Linked DNA regions of Homo sapiens. The protein of the gene in region 6 purifies or fractionates together with the protein of the main gene of each other region. This does not show direct contact. Each region holds a gene or a part of one and is shown on either strand. Other genes may lie near its edges. The genes, in order: SLC43A3, CCNQ, SLC35F6, ASXL2, GARRE1 and KRABD4.

Evidence for each region.
Region 1: the proteins of KRABD4 (region 6) and SLC43A3 purify together in Homo sapiens (affinity purification with mass spectrometry; one large-scale study listed by BioGRID and IntAct). This does not show direct contact.
Region 2: the proteins of KRABD4 (region 6) and CCNQ purify together in Homo sapiens (affinity purification with mass spectrometry; one large-scale study listed by BioGRID and IntAct). This does not show direct contact.
Region 3: the proteins of KRABD4 (region 6) and SLC35F6 purify together in Homo sapiens (affinity purification with mass spectrometry; one large-scale study listed by BioGRID and IntAct). This does not show direct contact.
Region 4: the proteins of KRABD4 (region 6) and ASXL2 purify together in Homo sapiens (affinity purification with mass spectrometry, with the first as the bait; one large-scale study listed by BioGRID). This does not show direct contact.
Region 5: the proteins of KRABD4 (region 6) and GARRE1 purify together in Homo sapiens (affinity purification with mass spectrometry; one large-scale study listed by BioGRID and IntAct). This does not show direct contact.

The regions. Positions count from the first base shown.
Region 1 is NC_000011.10:57,420,622-57,424,121, reverse strand, and holds part of SLC43A3 (equilibrative nucleobase transporter 1), read left to right. Parts: intron 1-93; coding exon 94-140; intron 141-2,748; coding exon 2,749-2,825; intron 2,826-3,057; coding exon 3,058-3,150; intron 3,151-3,500. UniProt on the Homo sapiens protein: Sodium-independent purine-selective nucleobase transporter which mediates the equilibrative transport of extracellular purine nucleobases such as adenine, guanine and hypoxanthine.
Region 2 is NC_000023.11:153,592,640-153,596,139, forward strand, and holds part of CCNQ (cyclin-Q), read right to left. Parts: coding exon 3,365-3,500; intron 2,041-3,364; coding exon 1,908-2,040; intron 95-1,907; coding exon 1-94. UniProt on the Homo sapiens protein: Activating cyclin for the cyclin-associated kinase CDK10.
Region 3 is NC_000002.12:26,777,784-26,781,283, reverse strand, and holds the end of SLC35F6 (solute carrier family 35 member F6 precursor), read right to left. Parts: intron 3,243-3,500; coding exon 2,773-3,242; 3' UTR 53-2,772; downstream 1-52. UniProt on the Homo sapiens protein: Involved in the maintenance of mitochondrial membrane potential in pancreatic ductal adenocarcinoma (PDAC) cells. Promotes pancreatic ductal adenocarcinoma (PDAC) cell growth. May play a role as a nucleotide-sugar transporter.
Region 4 is NC_000002.12:25,735,488-25,738,987, reverse strand, and holds part of ASXL2 (putative Polycomb group protein ASXL2), read left to right. Parts: 3' UTR 1-3,500.
Region 5 is NC_000019.10:34,253,196-34,257,353, forward strand, and holds the start of GARRE1 (granule associated Rac and RHOG effector protein 1), read left to right. Parts: upstream 1-1,358; 5' UTR 1,359-1,419; intron 1,420-4,158. UniProt on the Homo sapiens protein: Acts as an effector of RAC1.
Region 6 is NC_000023.11:46,446,077-46,450,096, forward strand, and holds the start of KRABD4 (KRAB domain-containing protein 4), read left to right. Parts: upstream 1-1,220; 5' UTR 1,221-1,270; intron 1,271-2,123; 5' UTR 2,124-2,234; intron 2,235-4,020.

The DNA.
Region 1 (3,500 bases), on a different chromosome or scaffold from region 6:
CTACACTTGTGGGCTGGCTGAGCAGAATCATGTTTTTTCTCCCAGGTTTCTCCCTCCTTGACAATATTCTGCTTTTCCTGTTATGTGTTTCAGATTTTTCTACACCACCGCCACACTCATCATAGCCTTCACCTCTGCAGGTGAGTGCTGTCAGGTGGGTGGGAGGGATGCAAGCTCAGAGGCACCTGGTGGCTGGGGCAGGTGTGAGCAGAGGGCTATAGGCAAGATATACAGACCACATGGTTATTCAGAGATCTGCAGCTTGAAAGAATCCTGGAAGGATCTTGAGCTATTGCTGGTCTGTGAAAACAGTTTATTGAGAAAATGTGAAAAGCAAGGATGATGGAGAGGGATTACTTCAGAGAGTAGAATTTATTCAAAACTTTACATCTGGCCAGGTGCAGTGGCTCACTCCTGTAATCCCAGCACTTTGGGAGGCTGAGGCGGGTGGATCATCTGAGGTCAGGAGTTCAAGACCAGCCTGGCCAACATGGTGAAATCCCTTCTCTACTAAAAAAAATACAAAAATTAGCTGGATGGTGGTGCGCGCCTGTAATCCCAGCCACTCAGGAGGCTGAGGCAGGAGAATTGCCTGAACCCAGGAGGCAGAGGTTGCAGTGAGCCAAGATCACACCATTGCACTCCAGCCTGGGTGACAAAGTGAGACTCTACCAAAAAACAAACAAAAAACCCTAAAAAACAAAACAACAACAAAAAACCTTTACATCCTTCTCCTATGTGTTAAAATGTTCTCTTTCTCTTTTTAATGAAATGATTATATGAATGACCATTTTGCAAATATCCTTACTTAGCAGGGTAAAAGTTGACAACCCTATTGTACTCAAAATCTTTGTTTTAAAATTTCACCAGTCTGTTAAGTCTGGAACTCCAATCTGGTTTATTTTCCACCACCCTTCCACCCATTACACAGAGGAGAAACTGAAGCCACAGCAGGACCCCTTGCAAAGACATGTCCATGGCCACAGAGAAAGCAAGTGGGAGGTGGGCCTGATGTGCAGGCCTCCTGATCCCTCACTCTTCTTTCTGTCATTGCCTTGGTTATGGTGGCCACGAGATGCCTCCCAATATTCCTTCCTAGTGTTAGACCCGTGGCTCAATTTTTGGTTTAGGAAAGAAAGTACATTACTCTTGTGTGTGTAAGCTATGCTAAAGCTGACAGCATCATGAGATTGTCTGCACTCATGCTGGGCAAACACAGAGGCTGAGTGTCTTTGTTCACACAGATCTCATGAGATGGCCCAGCACCTCAAACCAATTATTTCAAACCACTCTCCTTATCAAACCAGCATCATCTACTCTAAAAGCCTGTAAATGATTTTTAAGCAACTGAATGTGGAGGTGGTGGCTGGGTAATGTTTGACTCGTGCCTGCAAATCGTCTGAGCAACAATCCTCCTCTTCCTCCATAATATAGGGCTTTTCAGTTTTGAAAAAAGCATTGAGCCCATAAGGACTCTATTGTGAAAGGAGTCTCCAACCTTTAGTAGTAGGAGAGATGTACATTTTATAAAGACAGAAATTGAATGGTAAACTGTGTGAATACTCTAAAATTAGCTCTTGGCAGTGCTTCTTAAGGTATAGCACGGTAGTTAAGAGGATGTTAGGGGCACACGCATACTACGTGAACTACACTAACAAACATCAAATCACCTGGTAGAACAGCTATTCCCTTTTTATTTCTCTTTCAGTCCTTCTGATTTCATGAAAGAATGTCTTCATGTGGGGCCAGTGTGATTTTAACACTGATGGGAAGAGCAGGTCTTAGGCTTTGAACATTCTAAGGTCAAATGCATCCAGCTACAATTGAATAACATTGTTTTCCTTTCATTGTATTTATTTTGACAGTTACTTTCTATTCATGACAAGTAATGCCAGTGTTTTCATCTACAGTAGTGATATAAAGTGTCCTTTAAAAATAGATACTTTTTGGATAAAAGTGAGTCAACTTAAAACATTTTAGCAAATAATAGGACAGGCATAGGTTGTGGCCAGAATAATGGTGGGCAGAAGTCTGGTTTGGGGAGGAAGAATTTGTCAAGGGTTCCCCTAGCCCAGCTCTTGAGCTTTTTTGCTGTGGTCTCACACTTACCAGACCTGTTATAACCATTTGTTTGCATGTCAGTCTATTTAAGGGCAAGGACTATCTGATTCATCTTGCATTTCCAGTGCCAAGCACAATGCCTGGCACCAAAGAAGTGCTCAGAGTTTAGTGAACAAAGAAAAGACCATGGTCCTTTTCTCACTCAGTTCTCATAGCACCTGAGACAGGAAGAGCAGGAACTGTTGTTCCCATTAAACAGATGATTGAAGCTCAAGGCCAATACCATGAATTAGGGAATGGGCTAGAGGGTTGAGCCAGGGACCTGAGTCCAGGGTCTTCTTTTCCAGGAGTGTCAAGGATGAAAGGGAGAGGCAGCTTGTGGTTTACTGAGGGAAGAGAGAGGTGGCTTCACTTAGAGCTCTGCCTCTGTCTGTAGACTTCCTGGCCTGCCACAGACTGAGGACCAACTTTGGTTGGGAAGAAGGTGGCTCAGAAGACTTCCACAGAGATATCTGGGGAAGCCTTGGCCGGTATCCTAAAAACCCTTGAAGGACGCTGGAACGCTGGCTAGAATTGGGGCCTGGATACCAGGATTGTTGGGAATTTGGAGCAGGTGGGAGCAGAGTTTGGGGCTCCATGTTTGGGTTGCACTATGACACCACCCTACCTCTGACTTTGATGGTCCAGGCTCAGCCGTGCTGCTCTTCCTGGCCATGCCAATGCTCACCATTGGGGGAATCCTGTTTCTCATCACCAACCTGCAGGTGGGAGCCTTCCCTAATCCCAGGCACTCGGCAGGGTGGCGGGAAGGTGGAGGGAAGGAGAGACCCTTTTCTATAATTGGCTGCCTCAGATGGGGTTGGCCCAAGCTGAGGTGGGAGCTCTAGCGGTGGAGGGTGAGTTTGGGTATAAGGAGGGTCTGCCACATGCTGGGTGCTCAGGAAGTATCTGTTTCATGAATAAATAAGTGATCCAGGCTAGTCCTATCATCCCCAGATTGGGAACCTATTTGGCCAACACCGTTCGACCATCATCACTCTGTACAATGGAGCATTTGACTCTTCCTCGGCAGTCTTCCTTATTATTAAGGTAAATATAGCAACAGCCTACATTCACTGGGCACTTGTATATGCCAGACACTTGTCTTGTGAACCTGCATTATTTGTCTCCATCAACTCGGTGAGGTAGGTACTGTGTTACCCCCATTTTACAGATGAAGCATTTGAGTCTCTGAGGTTAAAAAGCTTGTTGAAGGTTCTGCAGCTAGTAGCCATGATACTGGAACTTGAACCCAGGCTTGTCGGTTCTAGAGCCTGAGCTTGTAACCGCTAAGCCCCTTCTTCAGACTTGCCCAAGCTTTTGTGGCAGTGGTCATAATGTGCTTGGGCCAGTGTTGGGTAGAGGCTGGGGGACCTTTAGAGTGGGGCGTTTGCTGCTGT
Region 2 (3,500 bases), about 110 Mb from region 6:
GCAGCAGGGCCCAGGCGGTGACGGCAACAGGGGTCCGCTGCCAGCTGTGGCGGTTCAGCCAGTTCTGGAGGGAAACCAGGTAGTGGAGCAGGTACTGCAAAGACACGTGTGTCAGCCTTTAGGCCCACCAGCTGCTCTCCTCATGCTGACATAATCATATCAGCACCTGCTCCAACCCTCCAGCAGCTTCCATGTCCCTCAGGAAGAAGCCCCAAGGCCTTCTGCTGGCCCCATCTCCTGCCGATCCCACCCTGCCTTCCAGCAAACCCCATCTAGGGCCTTCGCACTTGCTGAGCCCTCTGCCTGAAACCAGCTCACCGTATGCACCTGCCCACTCTCACCCTCCAGACCCAGCTCTAGGGAAACCTACGAGGGCCACCCCCACCACAGTCCCTCTCCACCACAGGGCCCGCTCTGGCCACCATGAAATTCCTCGGGGCCTGGTGCTCCGGAAAGCACCCTCTTCATGGGCAGAACAGAAGGTGCTGCTCCCCATGCATCTGGCCTGCTGCCAAGGGCACATGCTGTCCTCGGCCACAACATCCAAATGACCTCCCAGCCCAGCTGCCAGCTCCTGCTCTCAGAACACTGACATTTTGCCAGAACCTCACACAATAAGACAGATGCTGCGAGCTCTCTGGACAGTCTGGAACACACATGCGTGTGACCCCAGCACACCATGCAGGAGGGATACATAGGTTACTTTCCACCCCAGCCCTGACTGGAAGGAGGGGAAGGGGCTGGCAGGCTCCCAGCCACACCAAGCTATCAGTTCCCCATCTGGGCACAGATCACACACCCCTTGAGGTCTGAGTGCTGCTCTTTCCTAAGCCCTGTCGCCTTGACAACTCCACCCTGCAGCCACCAGGGCATCTCCCACCTTCCCCCAGGATGCTCAGCAAGCATTCTGCCCACTAAGACACTACTGCGCAGAAATCCCAGACCAGGGCTTTCCAGGTACTGAGGTGGGAGTGTGGAAGGCTGGAGGCAAGATTATAAAGGCAACACGAAGGGCCCATGCGGGTGGAACCGTCTCTCACCTTGGCTGTGGTGGTAGGTCCGTGAACGGAGTCGTGATAAAATGGAACAGAAAAATATACACACAGGAATACAAGTGGAAGTGAGGATGCCAGTGGACTGTGTTGGTTTTGGCATCCTGGCTGTGTTACCCCTGGGGGAGACTGGGCTAAGGGTACATGTCACAACTGCATGGGAATCTACAATGATCTCAGGAAGAGTTCCGATGAAAAAGAATGAAACTCCTAGCCCAGAGCCCCAAACCACAACTCCTCCATCTCTGTCTCCGGCCAGCCTTCTGAGCTGCCCGTGCATGGAGCTGCGGTGCCCAGAGCATCGTGTGCCAGTCGCCTAAGCGTTCCACTTTTCCCTTTTACTGCTGTTTGAAATGGTTCTTCTGTTGAGACTCACACATTCCTAGAAGTTAAAGCATGCTGCTTGACTCAAGCGATTTGGCTTTCCCCATGGCTTCCTAAGCACAGCTGAGCTGGAGGCGTGCTCCGAGGCATCACAGCATCCCCTGGGGACGGGGACTCTGGCCGGTCACAAAACCAGCCTGCTTCCCCGAGGCCCAGCGTGCACACCATCTATATGGACCACAGGAGCTGCCACAGCTTCAGCGGGCAGCACGGACCCCGCCCACAGGTGAGCAGGCAGAAAGGCAGAAGCTGAAATGAGAATTGGCTGAGAAAACCCACAGGGGTGGGACGGGAGAGGCCGGGCGGCCAACCCAGCCACAAACACAGAGCCAGGAGACCCAGTTCCCAGCCGCAGCCCTGCTCTCCTTCTGTGCTGTGCTCTCGAGTATGAGATGGGATGCACTTTTGGGATAAAGAACAGAGACCATGGCTTGAGCCTCTCCAAACAGGCACCAGTTCCCCAGTATGTACCTTGTGTGGATGCTGGAAGGAGACCTGGAAGCGCAGAACTCTCAGCATGAGAAGCTCACACTGCACGATGCTGTCCCGGAGTTCCCAGAAGCGGGAGTCCAATTCCAGGGGCTCACCGCTTGGGTTAAAGTACCTGCGCAGAGAAATGGCAATGCTTCAGCAGCCAGGGCAGTCTCCTGAGCACTGGATGGCTCAAATTGCTTAAGTCACACAATGTCCAGATGCAAACTACATCGTCCATCTGCAGATTCATGGAGGGTCATTTTATTTGGGTTTTTATACAAAAATTCTTCATCTCCACATCTAGTGTAGAGAATGAAAACAGTAACCAACAGAGGAAAGAAGCCAGCTCCTAGTTTTAGCCAGATGGGCTGTCCGCTATCATTCAGCAAAATGTCAAGTGCAAAGACTGGCTGTTGGCGATGGCTCCAGAGGAACCGGAAGCTTGAGCATGCCAAGTCGGTTGTGCTTCCTGTTATACTCAGCCCGGCATTAGGGAGTCTTCATCACCTGAGGTGGCAATGCCCGGGGCTCTCACTCTGGGCCCAAGGAACGTATTTTTTTAACTTATTTTTACTTTTTACTTTTTGAGACAGGGTCTTGCTCTGCCTTTCAGGCTGGAGTACAGTGGTGCAGCCACAGCTCACTGCAGCCTTGACCTCCTGGGCTCAAGCGATCCTCCCGCCTCAGCTACCCGAGCAGCTGGAACCACAGGCATGCGCCACCACGCCCGGCTAATTTTTGTATTTTTGGTAGAGACGAGGTTTCACCATGTTGACCAGGCTGGTCTTGAACTCCTGGGCTCAAGCGATCCACCCGCCTCGGCCTCCCAAAGTGCTGGGATCACAGGCGTGAGCCACCACGTCCAGCCATCCAAGGAACATGTTTAAGCCTCTCATGGGAATGATATACTCCAAAAAGTGAACATTTCTCAGTTTTGTATTTCCCAGACCGTCTTTCCCTCGCCTTGGCGAAGACCCTGCATTCTGCCCCAGCAGGAACACACCTGCTTGGGCCGGCTGTGCCATGCCCACGCCACACCCACAGCAGGGCGAGGCTCCTAAGCAACTGGGACCTACCACCTGGCTGGGTCTGCACCCTCCCGCTGCAGGCAAGCTCTTCTGCCTGCAGCCATCCCTGTCTAAGACTTCCACAGAATCTTCTTTGACATGCCTCTCCAAGCTCCCTCTGCTGAAGCCCCGCCTCTGCCCTCCATCCAGCTTTCGAGGCTCCCCATAATCTGGCCCAGCGTTTCTCTCACAGACCCCACTGGCCTCTGACATCAGGCTCCTTCTCACGTTTGCTGCTACTGTTTCTGGCCCTGCCTGGTTCAAGGCCATCCAGGTACTTCCTTCCAAGCTCCATTGCTGGCACCTGGTGGGCAGGGCCCCATAGGAGCCTTCCCTGCCCGTCCCCCCCACCGGGTGGAGATCAGGAGCCCAGCCAAATGCCATTACCTGTTGGACACATTGATGATGTCACGAGTCCGCAGGTGCTGCTCTTCCACTTTGCCGGCCAAGTAAATTGAAGACATGGCAATCAGGTAAGGGTCATAGGCGTCCAGGTTGGTCTCGCAAAAGAACTTATGGTAAA
Region 3 (3,500 bases), on a different chromosome or scaffold from region 6:
CTCCCCAGAAGCAGAAGCTACTATGCTTCCTGTATAGCCTGCAGAACTGTGAGCCAATTAAACCTCTTTTCTTTATAAATTAAATTACCCAGTCTCAGGTATTTCTTTACAGCAATTCGAGAATGGATTAATACAATTGCCAATTTTCCTTTTCTTTTTTTAAAAAATAAAAGCCAAAATAACACTTTTAAGATCCCAGGTTTTAGACAAGGCAGCTGTAGTCTCTCCATCATCCTCACTGTCCATTTGCTTCTTCCTGGGACAGACACTGTGGCCCAGTGAAGCTGAGGGGACCCTGGGATTCAAAGCTGGTGGAATGGACCCTCCCTCCCCCCACAAGCTGTAATAACCTGCTGGAATCCCACACAACCTGAGGGCTTCACTTGTCAACAGCTCCCTTCCCTCAGAGGCTATTTTGAGGCAGGCATTCGGTGTTTTATGACTGAGCTACCCAGGAGAATGGTTTGAGGCCACACTCAACTGTTCCAAGGAGCAGCACTGGACCAAAGGCTGCTTGGTTCCCTGCGGTTCCTGATGCCACCCCTTCTCTTCAGGGTGGTTACCTAGAAGACAACAGTACATGAGGCTTCCAGCCCAGCCCTAGGAGATCCATCCCAAAGACCCCACAGAGACCTGCATGGGAGGTGGGGCCACAGGTCTGGTATCAGGCAAACCTAGGTTGGAACACTGGCTCCATAAAGAGGAAGTCACTTAACCTTCTCTGGGGCATGGTTTCTTCATCTGTTCCCACCTCTGAAGACTATCGTAAGACAGAATGAAAGTTAAGCAACTTAACGCAACGCCCAGGATACCAGAATTATTCTAAATGGCAGAATCCTACTTAGTCTGTCATCTTGGGAGTTCTCTAGGCAGGCAGGTTGCCAGGGGTGGGGCTGAGATCCAGATGTGCTCTAGGTCCCTGTCTGCTGCAGAATCATGTGGCTGCTGGACCTGGGGGTCCCCCAGGTCCTTGCAGGAGCTGAGGGTAGGAGACTCCATTTGCCAAACAACTTAGAACTTTGGGCCTCAGTTTCCTTGTCTTTAAAAGGAACAGGTAAAGAATTCATAAAAACAATTGACAAGGGCTGCCTGGAATTTCCCTGTAATCTCTTCCAGGCAGAGGAGGCCTCAGAGGTGAGAGTAAGAGCAGGAAAACAGGGACAGGTTTCACTCTGTTGCCCAGGTGTGGTGGCTCAGGTCTGTAATCCCAGCACTTTGGGAGGCTGAGATGGGAGGATCGCTTGAGGCCAGGAGTTTGAGATCAGCCTGGGCAACACAGTGAGACCCATCTCTGCCAAAAAAATAAAACAATAAACCAGGCATGGTGGTACATACCTGTTAGTCTTAGCTACTCGGGAGGCTGAGGCAGGAGGACTGATTGATCCCAGGAGTTCAAGGCTGCAGTAAGCTGTGCCTGGGTGACAGAGCAAGACCCTGTCTCTCAAGAAAAAAAAAAAAAAAAAAAAAAGGCTGGGCGTGGTGGCTCATGCCTGTAACCCCAGCACTTTGGGAGGCTGAGGCAGGTGGATCATGAGGTCAGGAGATTGAGACCATCCTGGCCAACATGGCAAAACCCCGTCTCTATTAAAGAATGCAAAAAATTAGCCGGATGTGGTGGCACACGCCTGTAGTCCCAGCTACTCAGGGGACTTGCTTGAACCTGGGAGCGGGAGGTTGCAGTGAGCCGAGATCACACCACTGCACTCCAGCGTGGCAACAGAGCAAGACTCTGTCTCAAAAAGAAGAAACAAACAAACAACAAAAAAAACAGCACAGAAGGGTGGTGCTGTGGGCAGAGGGGTATTTCCAGTGGATGGGCTGTTACTGTTTTCTCAGGTTGGTCAAGATCACAGGCCCATGGAATGCTGGGGCCAGAAGGCACTAAGGCCACAGCATCAACATCTACTTCCCAGAGCATAACACCAAGGCCCAGAGCAACTGGGTAATGTGCTGGGAGCTACAATGAGTTTGAGGCAGAGTCTGGGCTAAAACCCATGTCTCCAGACGGGTTTAGGGAGGATCTTAGAAGTTTTAGAAAACATAATGCTTAGTTATGGCTGGGTGTGGTGTCTCACGCCTGTAATCCCAGCACTTTGGGAGGCCGAGGCAGGCAGATCACCTGAGGTCAGGAGTTTGAGACCAGCCTGGCCAACATGGTGAAACCCCATCTCTATAAAAGTTACCCAGGTGTGTTATGCACCTGTAATCCCAGCTACTCGGGAGGCTGAGGCAGGAGAATCATTTGAACCTGGGAGGCAGAGGTTGTAGTGAGCCGCCGAGATCGTGCCACTGCACTCCAGCCTGGGCGACAGAGCGAGACTCTGTCTCAAAAAAAAAAAAAGAAAATATAATGCTTAGTTCTGGTTTAAATTTGCTCACTGACTTTTCTTCTTTGAAGAATCAAATCTAGCTTATGACTCATAAACTAGATAACTATGATAATCTAGTTTATGATTCAGATACACTACGGTGGTAAATTCCTACAATTCAACTTCATGATTTAGCTCTAGTGCTGTAGGAGGGGTCCAGAGAGCTGAGGTCTGCCACTGCACTCAGGCTTGTGGGGGCTGGGTAACACCACCCTGCAGGTGGTAGTGAGAAAAAGAGGACTTGGGTGTTGTTATCTTCTGTGGCAGCAGCTGCCCTGGGGGTTCTGCAGGGAGGGGACAGGGTGAGGCCTTGGGGATAGGGCATTCGGGGCCCACCAGCCTGTGTGGCCTCAGTCTCAGGGAGAAGGAGCACCCGGGTGGCAGTAGAAGCCTCCAGGGAACCTCAGCTGGCATCATTGATGGGAGTGCGGGTGCCACCCAGCAGTCTCTCCTGCTCGCTCTCCTCTGCCAGGGGCCGGCCCCTGGACAGGCGGCCCAGCAGCGGACGGTGTAGCCCATTGTAGAGGGCAGTGCCTATAAGGAGTATGAGGAAGCCAAGGATCTGCAGTGCATGGAAGGCCTCCCAGCCCAGTGCCAGGCTCAGTGCCCAGATGACAACGGTGCGCAAGCTGTCCAACACCATGCGGGTGGTGGCGCTCAGTTCCTTGGTGACGCTGATGCCTGCGAAGTTGAAGAAGGCAATGCTGCTGATGTTGCCCAGCAGTGCCACGGCAATGAGCGGCTGCTGGCCCACCTGGCAGAAGGCGTCCAATGCATCCTCCAGTGTCCCACGAGGGTTTCCGCTGAAGGAGCCGGCGGGGATGTAGTACATGGGCACCAGCAGCAGGGAGAGGATCACAAAGCCAAAGAGGCCTGGGGAGTAGAGGAAACAGTTACACTCTCCACCTTCCCCCAGACCCCCAGCACAGCCCACCGGCTTAGCCTCCTCTGATCTCGGGTCATTCCCTCCCAGTGGTCCTCATGCCAGCTCCCTCCTTTCACGTCCCTCAGTCTCTCATCAGGAGCTTGTGGCCTATTAGATGGGTTCTAGCTGTCCCTTCTCCACTTTTACTCAGGGTTTTTTTGACTGGATCAAGAGTAAGAAATACATTTTATATTGTGACCCAGTAC
Region 4 (3,500 bases), on a different chromosome or scaffold from region 6:
CATCCTATTAAACAGAAAGTAAAGCCAAATAGCCTGGAGTTGTTTGTCCTACTTGTTCCATAACCCCTATGCTCAAGATACTGAAGCTATCTGTGGTATTTCATGTAACATTTCTAAGAATAAGAGCTGGCAAATGGGAAACTTGGGGTGGAGAGAGCATACTTATTGGGCTGTGAAGGCATACGGATGTACATGTTTTAGAGCTTATCTCAGATTTAAATAGCCAAAGGAAGACCTCATTGCCTTCCAGGTGAAGGTGCAAAGTCATACATATTAATGACCTGACAGTTAACATTCTGTTGTTTATTATTGCCTTTCTCCACCTTAGAGAGCCATAAATAACTCTCTGGTGAAGTGATTTGCTATAATGGGGGTGAGGAGTGGGGAGACTTCTCTGGTCATTACACTGCTATTTATTTCTAGAACTCACTATCAGTGAGCAGTGCCAGAGTGTTTTCTCTTTGACCTAGAGGTTTCACATCATAGCAAGGAGGGAAAAGTCTCCCCATCTCCTTACAACTGTGTGCTAAGTAAGTAACTTGGCCAAGGGTAGTTTTCAGCTCAATTTATAGAATAGTCCAAAGAGACTTTGAGAAACATGGTGATAGGCAGGGGCCTTTCCTACCATGTTTCAATACCTACAAACCTATTGAAAGAGAACAGTAGGTAAAACATTTCCTAAAGTTGAAGCAATAGCTTCGTAGATTCTTGGTTACTTTATTTTTTTTAATGCTTTACATTTGATACAACTATTGAAGATCAATTTTAAAAATAGCTTTCCAGTAATATATTTTAAGTAATATATATTTTAATATCTGTAAAAAGTGACAGTGGAAGACTTTGAATTTCTCATATATGGTATGTTTGATGTAGGACCTCACTGTTAAGGCACAAATTATTTCAAAGGAAGTTACTCTAAAGACACTCAGATTATTTCAGAAAAATGCAATAAGGGGAATAGTTTTGGGGTTTATTTTTTATTTTAAAAGAAAATTGACTTATTTACCACAAGCTATTTTTTTCCCTTCTGGCTGTAAGGTTTGTACAGACTGGTTTGGTAAATGCTAAACTTTTGTGTCTTTTGCCTTTTTAAAGGAATTGTTAACATTGGAATTGAGGGTATGTACAGAGAAGTTGGTGTCAACACCATTTAAAAAGTCATATTTTTTCACAAATATAGAAAATCATTTTACATAAGAATTTTAAGTATTTGCAATAAATATATGTATATAGATTGTATGTATTCCTATATTCTTATTTTTCATTTTATTATTAAGTAAAAGATCATTAAAAGTGAAAATAAAAACCTTGGAGTTTTTTGGTGAATCTTGAGGTTTAACATACATCTGAGAGTGGCGTGGGTAAGAGTCCTCAGTTACTGCCTTATACTCCTATGGGATGGTTCCCACAGATTGTATGGAAGAGAGTAAAATGAGGAACTTGGTGATAAATCAGGGTAGTGTATTTCTTTTGGAATTTAAGTAAAACTGATTAAATTTTCCTTATCTGTCTGTCTCCATGTTTTCTCCCTTAATCTGTTTTGTCTCCTAACCCCCTAACATTACTGGAAAAGTGAAGAAATGCGGTGCAGCCTCTTTATTAATGTGCCCATTGTTTGCTCCTAAATCAAAGAATGGTAAGGAAATATCTCGGGGGAAAAAATAGGTTTTCCTTTCTCCACAGTGGTTGACATTTACTGCCACCACTTTCCAGGCCTTAGGGGAGTGTGAAGAAATAGTTTCTTGAAGATGATAGAAATTTTTTTTTTTCCGTTTCCCAGTTCTCTCAGAAGTGAGTTTCATAGCCAGTCATGTCCTTCCTGCCCGTCTAATCTGGAGAGGTCAAAGAGCAAGGAAAATAATGTGAAGAGAAACACCTGTGCCTTGATTAGGTTCTATTTCAGCATTTGACACTTGAATTTTGAACTCCTCTGGGTCAGGAAGGGTAGCTATGGAAATGAGGTCTGAGCCAGTTGGTAGGAGAGGTTGTCTATGTTCCCATACCGAGATTGCTGTCTAATCCACGAGAACTCATTTTGTGGCTGCAAAGTAAATACTTGATTTTAGGATATGATAGGAGCAAAATGGTGCCTACATCGTCTTTATAAAGAAAAGTATATAGCCCATTTTTTAACAAATGAATAATATATCGAATCATTGATGACCTAAAAGAAAAATTGTTAAGGTCAGATTTTCGAGAGTGTATCTTGATGACCCATAAAACTGACTTTTTATTGTAGTTCACTAGTTCCCATAATTGCCCAGCTGTGGTTACTTTCACTGAAAAGAAAAAATATATTTTGGAAGTTAATGTAAGGATACATTGGCTTTTTTTTTTTTTCTTTACATTGGCTTTTTAAAAGACAGTTTTTATTTTTCAGATACTGGAATGTCAAGTATCTGGGTTGTCCCAAGACGTTGGAGATAATTCAGCCTTCCAAGAGAACAGCAGTCTAGATCTTAGCTGAAAATGTGCTGTTTCTAAAGGAAGCTTCTTAAGTCTCAGGGGACATTAGCATCTTCATAATTTCCATATATAATAAGAATGAAGGTAAAATATTTAAATGTGTATAAACTAATCCATAATGACCATTTACAAAGATTGACTCCCCATTTCTGGTACATATTTATCATTATTTAGATGGGTCTCCTATCTTGTGGGAAGATAAATTTATATTCAGGTGATGACATGGGTGCCTGCAAGTAGAGTTGGTCTGCAGCTGAGGGAGAAGGCAACATACCAGAAGACAAGGCAGCTTCAACCTGGATCCCCAGCTACCCTTTATTTACTTCACTGAGTCAGAAACCCGTGTTCATTGCTTCTGAGACTACTTGACCTCAGCTGGTCTTTAGAAGTCTGGTAACTTTTTATGTACAAATCATGTTATTTACTAATTCAAGTATTTATAGAGCACCTACTGTGCACTAAGCACTAAAGTGCTGGTTATGCAAAGGTAAGCAAAAATAGTCATGTAAGTTGCAGAAAGGTTTTCCTAAAGTAGTGACTATACAGCATGTTTTTAGTTCTAGGCTCAAGGAGTAATACTACCTTTTTCCCAAGATAGGTTGAAAATTTAAATGAGTTATGAAATGGAAGTGTTTGAGACACTGGACACAGTAGTGGCAAATACATGAAGAAAGAAGGTCCCTAGATGAAAAAAGTGTGGAAATGAGGAGCCATATTAATAAAATGCACCTTTTTTGAGAACTATTGTTGGAATAGCTAAAGTTGTCTATAGAAATTTCAAGAAATCTCTTAACATCTAAATTAGAAGCAGGCCAACAGCAATCTCTGTCAGTAGTTAATTTAGGTCAGTAAGTTAGTGTTTTGTTAAACTAACCCTTTCAAACACAGTTGGGTAAATAATGCAGCTTTCCTGTCACTGTTCAAACCTAAAAGAAGCTAAAGGGAATTTTTCTTAAAACATGATTTTCATCTTATAGATGATAAGTAACTGTATCTCTTCATTTGGAATTGTTGCATCCCAGTTTTTCTCCATA
Region 5 (4,158 bases), on a different chromosome or scaffold from region 6:
CCACCACGCCTGGCTGATTTTGTATTTTTAGTAGAGACGGGGTTTCATCATGTTGGTCAGGCTGGTCTCGAACTCCTGACCTCAGGTGATCCACGCGCCTTGGCCTCCCAAAGTGCTGGGATTACAGGCGTAAGCCACGGCGCCCGGCCTCCTTCAACGCTGAGTAATATTCTATTGTTATGTTTATACCACATTTTGTGAACCCATTCACCCGTGGATGGACATTGGGTTGCTTCCACCTTCTGACTAATATGAACATGGGTGTACACATTTATATCCACTCTTGCCTCCCCTCCGTAGTCCTTCCTTCTCCACACTGCATCTAGAGTAACCCCTTTACACTCTCAAGTATGGACAAATCACCTCTTGCTTAAAACTCATTAGTTTTGCAACACTGTCAAGTAAGACCTAACTTCTCACCACTCTGATTTATTATTGGAACACAAAACTGGGCCATGCTCCGTGGCTCAAGCACTTTGGGAGGCCGAGGTGGGCGGAACACCTGAGGTCAGGAGTTTGAGACCAGCGTGGCCAACATGGGGAAATCCCGTCTCTACTAATAACACAAAAATTAGCCGGGCGTGGTGGCGCACGCTTGTAATCGCAGCTATCCGGGAGGCTGAGGCAGGAGAATCACTTGAACCCGGGAGGTGGAGGTTGCAGCGAGCCAAGATCACGTCACTGCACTCCAGCCTGGGCGATAGAGCAAGACTCCGTCTCAAACAAACAAAACCCACAGAACTGGAAGACCCTTGCTGCTGCTTCTGCGTAATGTGTTCTCCTCCCTTCTCGTTTTTTTTTTTTTTTTTCTCCCTTCTACCCCTTAGGACCTCAGCTCCTGCTCTTTCCCTGGGGGAATTCCGGATCACTCTCCTTTACTAGGTCAGGGTACTCTCTCCCTCCCTCTTACTCTTTCCCCTCCTACCACTTGTCACCATTGGTACTATATTATCACCCGGATATGTGACAATGGTATTGTGTATTTACCACTAAGGAATAAACTTATGAGGGAGAGAGCACTACCCGTTCCTGCAGTGCCCGTCGGGGCCTGGCATCTAGGAAACACTCCATACGCCAGTAATCGATTTCAGTCAATTTCAGTAATAAATCCAGGAGGACGCAGCCCGACCCCTCCCGCCCGGGGGCCAAGCCATGGTGGGGGATCTGGGTGGACCTCCGGCTCTGGCCGCCAGTCCTCAACCTCCGCCCCGGCCGTCCCGCTTGGGGGCCCAGGGTCCCAGGAGAGGAGGCTCCGGGGCGCCCCCTCCCCTCTAATGCGAGAGGAGAGTCCGCTCTAGGCGCGGGATCCGCAACCTCCCCGCGTCCGCCCGAGGCGGGGGCGGGGCCGGACCGGAGACGTAACTTCCGGTGTACACAGCCGGTCCAAGGCGGTGCGCTGGGGGCCGGGGCGCGTCGCAGGTGAGGAGCGGGCGCGGCGGGCGCAGGCGGGGGCTGGCGGGCGGGGTCGGGCGGTGGGCGGTGGGCAGCGGGGCCGCGGGCCGCAGCCAGGGCAGACGGCGAGACGGGCCCGCGGGGCGCCGCTCCGCTCGGGGCCGCAGGGCGCGGGGCCGTGGGCTCCCGCCCCTTGCCCGCCCGCTGTGGAGGACGCCGGGCTTTGCGGGCGCTGGCCGGCCGACGGAAGCCCGGAGGGGCCTCCTGGCGCGAACCCGGGACCTGGGGGCGCGTCGGAGACTCGGCGGCCGCGGCACCGCAGGGGCGGGTCGGCGCCCGTCAGGCGGGGAAAGGGGACGCTCCCTCGGTTCGCCGGGGCCCGGGAGGTCGCGCTGGCGCCAGGACCCGCTCCCGGAAGCCCGCGGAGGGAGGGCGGCCTGCTGGCGGCAGGGGTCCGCTGGGGCTAGCCGGGGAGGCGGCCCTCACGCCATCCCGGGGCTGCCGGGCGGGCTGCGCGCACCTTCCCGGCGGCGCCAGGCTGCCGAGGAACGCGCTTTTCCGGCCCTGCGGAGCCAGCTGGCGCATTGGGCCCGAGGGGAGGGTCCGCGGGGACCGGGAGGGCCGGGGCTGAGCGTGGAGGACCCGAGCCCGAGGGACGAGCGCAGAGTCAGGGGTGTGTCTTTCTGCGCCGCGCGGTGCGAGGAAAGAAGCGTGCCTGGTTGGCATGATAAGAATTTTGTTTAGACTTTTTAGAAATTTTCCAGAGACTCAGCTTTGGGGGCCTCCAGTTTGAAAATACCTTGTTCTGGTCCCTCATCCCCATTATAAAAGCAGTTAATTCTCCTTTCCTGGCAAAACACTCAAGACGACACAAAAAGTCTTAAGGTAGAAAATGACAGTCATCTGCCAGTCTACCATTCAGTGACAACCACTGCTAACATTTTGGTGATAATCAATAAATACAGATAGGTATTGTTATTTTTATGGACTTTACAGTATGTGATTTAACCACCGATGAGCATTGAGATAGTTTCCAATTTGTCACAAGATAAACAATTCTGCCGGAAGGATTTGTTTGATATGGTCTTTTTTTTTTTTTTTTAATAAGAGACTGTTGCCCAGGCTGGTCTCAAAACTTCTGGCCTCAAGCGACCCTCACGCCTTCGCCTTCCAAAGTGTTGGGATTACAAGTGTGAGATATTACACCTGGTCTGATTGTTATCTTAGAATAAATTTACAAATGGGGTCAAAGGTAACTTTATTTGTTTTTTTTTGAGACAGTCTCCCTCTGTCACCCAGGCTGGAGTGCAGTGGCGGGATCTAGATTAACTGCAACCTTAGCCTCCCGGGTTCGAGCGATTCTCCTGCTTTAGTCTCCCGAGTAGCTGAGATTACAGGCACCCACCACGCCCGGCTAATTTTTGTATTTTTAGTAGAGACAGGGTTTCGCCCAGTTGACCAGGTTGGTCTCGAACTCCTGACCTCAGGTGATCCGCCTGGCTCGGCGTTCCAAAGTGCTGGGATTATAGGCGTGAGCCACCGTGTCCGGCCGTAACGTTCAATTTTTAAGAATACATAGTATTTGTTTTCCTTTGACATATTTGGACAATTTTTCTGTCTCTTTGTCATAAAAAAAAATTCCAGCCTGGCGCGATGGCTCATGCCTGTAATCCCAGCACTTTGGGAGGCCGAGGCGGGCGGATCACTTGAGGTCAGGAGTTCTAGACCAGCCTGGCCAACGTGGTGAAACCCGGATTCAACTAAAAAAATACAAAAAAACACATTAGCCAAGCATGGTGGCGCGCTCCTGTAGTCCCAGCTACTTGGGAGGCTGAGGCAGGAGAATCGCTTGAGCCCAGGAGGCGAAGGTTGCAGTGAGCCGAGGTCGTGCCACTGCGCTCCAGCCTGGGCAACAGAGTGAGACTCCATCTCAAAAAAAAAAAAAAAGAAATTCATGTTTGCGTCTCATCGTTTCATGGTTTTATTTTTTTGCCTTTAGTCTACCTAAAATTCATTCTTGGTTTAAAATATGAAATATTTTGTAAATGGCTAGTCAGTTCCAGATTTATTGAATAATATGTAAGCTTTATCATTTTATCATATTTTAGACTAAAAGTTCTAAGTGTATGTTTGTAAGGGCTACTTACAAAGTTCATATTTACATTTTGTGTGTGCTTAGATGTTTTCAAGTGTCTTTAAAAATCACAGTATTTTCTTTTCACAGTATCTTCACAATATTTTGTTTTAAAAAGAAATCATTTTCCAATACAAGTACAGGGAATATTTCATGTTTGAGATTTTTTTTTTCTTTTTAAAGCAAAAAGTTTAGTTTATTGCCGTTTCATTTGCTTTCTTGCTGACAAGATAACAAACTCCATATGAAGAGTTCAGGTTTGTTGTGGCAACTTTTCAGTGTGGCATTTGAGATTCTAATCTTCCTCTATTTTTGCACACAAATACGTAGGTTGGCATTGGAGACCAAGATAGAAAAGTTCTCAGATTCCCTTGGCAAGCCTAGATTTTTCAATCTAAAATTATCTCCAGATGTTTGGAAGACCATGTTTTAAGCATCCTTTTTTTTTTTTTTAAGCAAATTGCACATGATTCTGTGAAAATTTTAGTAAATGTTTGTTCTGTTGAAAACCTATAGCCTAATACATCAGGATCCATGTGTCAAGTGGGTCTTCCAAGTCTATAGGAAATAATTGTTTCTGAAAGCTAGCAGGCTGGGATATCACATGGGTTGGGTGTCCACTCTCTTTTTTT
Region 6 (4,020 bases):
TTTTCCTAGGACTTGTACAGGAGGCTTAGACAGGGTAACTTCCCAGGGGATGGCTGTACTGAGTTTGCAAATTTGGGCTGAGACTCATTCAAACTACCTGGGGAATGCAAGTTAACCTGCAGAGGAGAAAGCGAAAAAGAAAAAGGAGAAAGACCCATGTTCAAATGGAAATTAAATACATATCTGATGGATTCCATGATCAGCTTTAACACTTTCATCTATAAACAGTGTCTGGCACCAGTTGGCTCCAGCACAGAAGGGATTGCTTTGTACCTGGTGGAGACCCTGCCATGCCTGACCCAAGGAAGCCTGCTTGGTGACTAGGCAGGCACAGAAGGATGGAGAACACACTTCGTCTGTTTCCCCCAGGCCCAGACAGGAAACAGAAAACTTTCCTCAAGGCCATTACAGGCCTTTTTAGGGGACCATGTTGCCACTGGCTGGCAATCTCACAGAAAACACCTCTTTGCTATTTACAGTGCGTTTTCAAAAAAGTAAAATCCAGATTCTCCCAGGGTGTCTAGGATCTCAGGAATTGGAGCCCCTCTATTGCGTAGAGAAAAATCAGAATGAGGGTTTCTTTCCTCATTTCAAGAGATCGCTGGCTCTGCAGCCCAGCTCAAAAGCCCATCCTCCAGGCCACTTCCCCGGCTGAGCCAGACCCCTTGCTCCCATGACTCTCTGAGAGCCAGGCCCAGGGTCGGGTTCCCTGAGACCAGCCTGGACCCTAGATGGCCACGCCTCCGAGCGCTATTGGCGCCGGAGGCGCGACTCTTTTTCCTATTCCCAGGAGGGTAAAAAAGCGGGAACAATGGCTTTCAGGACGGAGGGACACAAACACCCAATGCCGCAGCGACTGGGAGGGTCGCGATGCAGGAGGACGAAATGGGAGAAGGGGGACAAGGGGGACTTCGGCCTCCCTGCGGGCGGGAGCTAGGCCGCTGGAAAGTCCGCTCGCCTCTCGCCGGCAAGGGATGACGCCCTGGGCCTTTTGTACCACTCGCCACGGAAAATGGTCACACGCTTTTGTCCTCAAGCCGAACACTATCAGAAACACGGGGTCCCTGGAAGCCGCCATCTTGGCCATTGGCGGTGGCGCACCCACCCCCGTGCTACTGCGCGTGCGCGGCGCTGCGACACACTCCGACCCCATCCCGCGTTCCCAGGGGGCGGTGGGAAGCGGAAGTGCTCCGCTGACCCGGGAGGGCGGTCCCTAGTTCACACTGGCTGTTGTCAGCGGCCTCTGAGGTTTCAGGCTCTTGGCGGTGAAGTAAGAGGGACGCGGAGGTGGTGATGGTTTTGATGGGGGCGGGGGTTGACGGGGTCGTGGGGTCATGGGGCCATGGGTGAACGCCTTTGTGGGTGACAGGGTGGCTCTACAGCCCAGCTCAAAAGCCCATCCTCCAGGCCACTTCCCCGCCTGAGACAGGCCCCTTGCTCTCAGGACCCTCTGAGCCAGGACCAGGGTCCGGTTCCCTGAGACCCGCAGGCCTGTGGGCGTGAGTGCTGGGGACGAGGTTCAGGGCCAGCGAGTGACTGATTGAGTCACTCCGCGCCTGTTTCCTGAGCGCCTAAAAATGCCAGGCAACCTTGCAAATGTTTCACATTAATCTTCACAGGAGCCCTGTGAGGTGTTACGATGATTATTTTCGTGTTATAGAGAGAAAATGGCTCAGTGTGGCTTGACAACCTGTCCAAAGTCACGTAGGTAGCAAACCCGAGGAATCTTTTTTTTCTTTTCCTGTGCTTCGTTTATCATGTTTATTGTTTCCTGTGTGTCTCCCCCGCTGGACTAGAAACTCTGCGGGAGCTGGGACTTTGAGATTTTGTTCCCTGATGTATTTCCAGCACGGAGAACGGGCTCATGGAAGGAAGGCACCCATTTCTTCAGTGAATAAAAGTGGCACAGCAGTCAGTCAGTTGATTCCAAAGCCCGGACTCAGGAAGGCAGGGTTTCGCTCACTGAGGATAATTGAGCTGTGAATCAATGTTAACTCTTAAAGCTAGAATGAGGCATTGTCCCTCTTCTGCTGGGTAAAACCTTTGGGTTTTACTCAACTTCACTGCATGGAAGGGAGCATAGGTGTTGCTAATTGAATCTCCTGTGGTCATTGTGTTTCCAGGGTCAGAGTGCAGACCTGAGACCACTGCTCACCGACTTCAGACTCCAGTTTATCTGTGCCCCAGCTTCCTCACTTAGTCTCAGAAGACTTAGGCTGAGGCCTCAGAAGGAGGTGAGTTCCCTGGGTCACAGGCAGAGATCTGGTGCTATAGTGATGGCCTCAACTGGGGCGTGTTTGTCTCTGAATCCCTTGGTCCTGCGGCCTTGGACACAAGAGAGGTACGCTGAGCTGAGGCGAGTTGGAGGAGAAGCCTCAGCCCAGAGCCCAGACCCAGATCCTCAGGGCAGAGAAAGGAGGCTCACAGGATAGCAGGTCCTAGAAGAGCTGGACCCATAGTGGCCTTTGTCCCTCACTTCAGCTGAGACAAAGCAAAGCTGGCTCAACTTCCAGATGCCATCGAGGACCGTGTGACAGTGCAGTTTGATTCCTGCTGGAGGAGGGACAGGTGAAAGTCACAGGTGGATGGAGGCATGGATGTCCCCCCATGGGGCAGGTGCCCTGCTGTAGTGCCTGTAAAGGCGCTATGAGGCTGGGAAGGATCACAGCCAGCCACAGAGGATTGGCCTCTCCTAGCACACCTATTTGTGCACCCCTGTGTTCCCGTCTCTTGCCATTGGCTATTTCTGAATTTGAGTCAGCCCCACACCATCAATCAGGCACCTGCTTCCAGGGGAAATGCTGAGTGTCCCTTCATCCTGACCAAAGTGCAGAAAATATATTTTTAGTTTATAGAATTTCCAAGTAGTCTCTAGGTACGCTGTCATCCATCTCTGCTGCCTTATTTCAATGCTTAATGAAAGTGGGCCAGGGGACATGACCTGCTAAGCCACACCAAGCTGAACCCTGTTGTCCTGATACTGTCACAATGATTGTTGCAGTATGCAATGGTTACTCTGCACAGAAGCTCCTTGCTGGAACTTTATTTGAAAAACTACCAAAGAAGGAGGAGCCTGGTAATCAAAATGCAAATTGTGAGAAAGGAGAAAATGATGGGGTGGGAACAGGGTAGGTGGCCAGTTAAAGAGGCAGATGCAGGGGAGCAGGCACGGTGGTTTTCAGCCCCTCACAGAACTGACAGTGCTGGGCTGTTACCCACCCAGCCCCACACCTCTCCTCCACTGTGGCCCTCTGAGCCCCTGTTGGGCTCCTTCCTCCAAACCACATCAAGAGATCCTACTTATACACACTTGCAGAGGGTCTTTTCACCTCTAGGGCTCGGTTTGATAAGTGGTGATTTTTAATAATTTTTAATTTTTGTTTTACTAGTGATATTCTTTGTCAAAAATTGAGAAAATGCAAATAAAAGAAGAAAATTGAAATCACCACTCAAAAGTAACCAATATCAGCATTTTAATAAATCCTCTGAGACATCATATATGTGCATATTGATTATCAAAAATGAGATCACACTGCGCTTGCTTTCTTGGAACCTGCTTTTAAACACATTAGGAACTAAAAACAAATTCCATAGCATTTTGAAAGGCTGTTCAGTATACCTGCTTTTGCATGTGTCATATTTTTTAACTGTGTCCTCTTTGCTGGATATTTAGTTGCTTCCAATTTTTTTGTTTATTTGTTTTTTGTTTAGACAGGGATTCCCTCTGTCGCCCAGGCTGGAGTGCAGTGGTGCCATCTTGGCTCACTGCAACCTCCACTTCCTGGGCTCAAGTGATCCTCCCACCCAGCCTTCAGAGTAGCAGGGACTACAGGTATGTGCTACCATGCCTGGCTAATTTTTGTAGAGATGGGGTTTCGCCATGTTGCCCAGGCTGGTCTCGAACTCCTGGGCTCCAGTGATCTGCCCACATCAGCCTCCCAAAGTGCTGGGATTATAAGCATGAGCCACTGCACCCGGCCGCTTCCACATATTAATATTTTAATGGTAGAAATGACTACA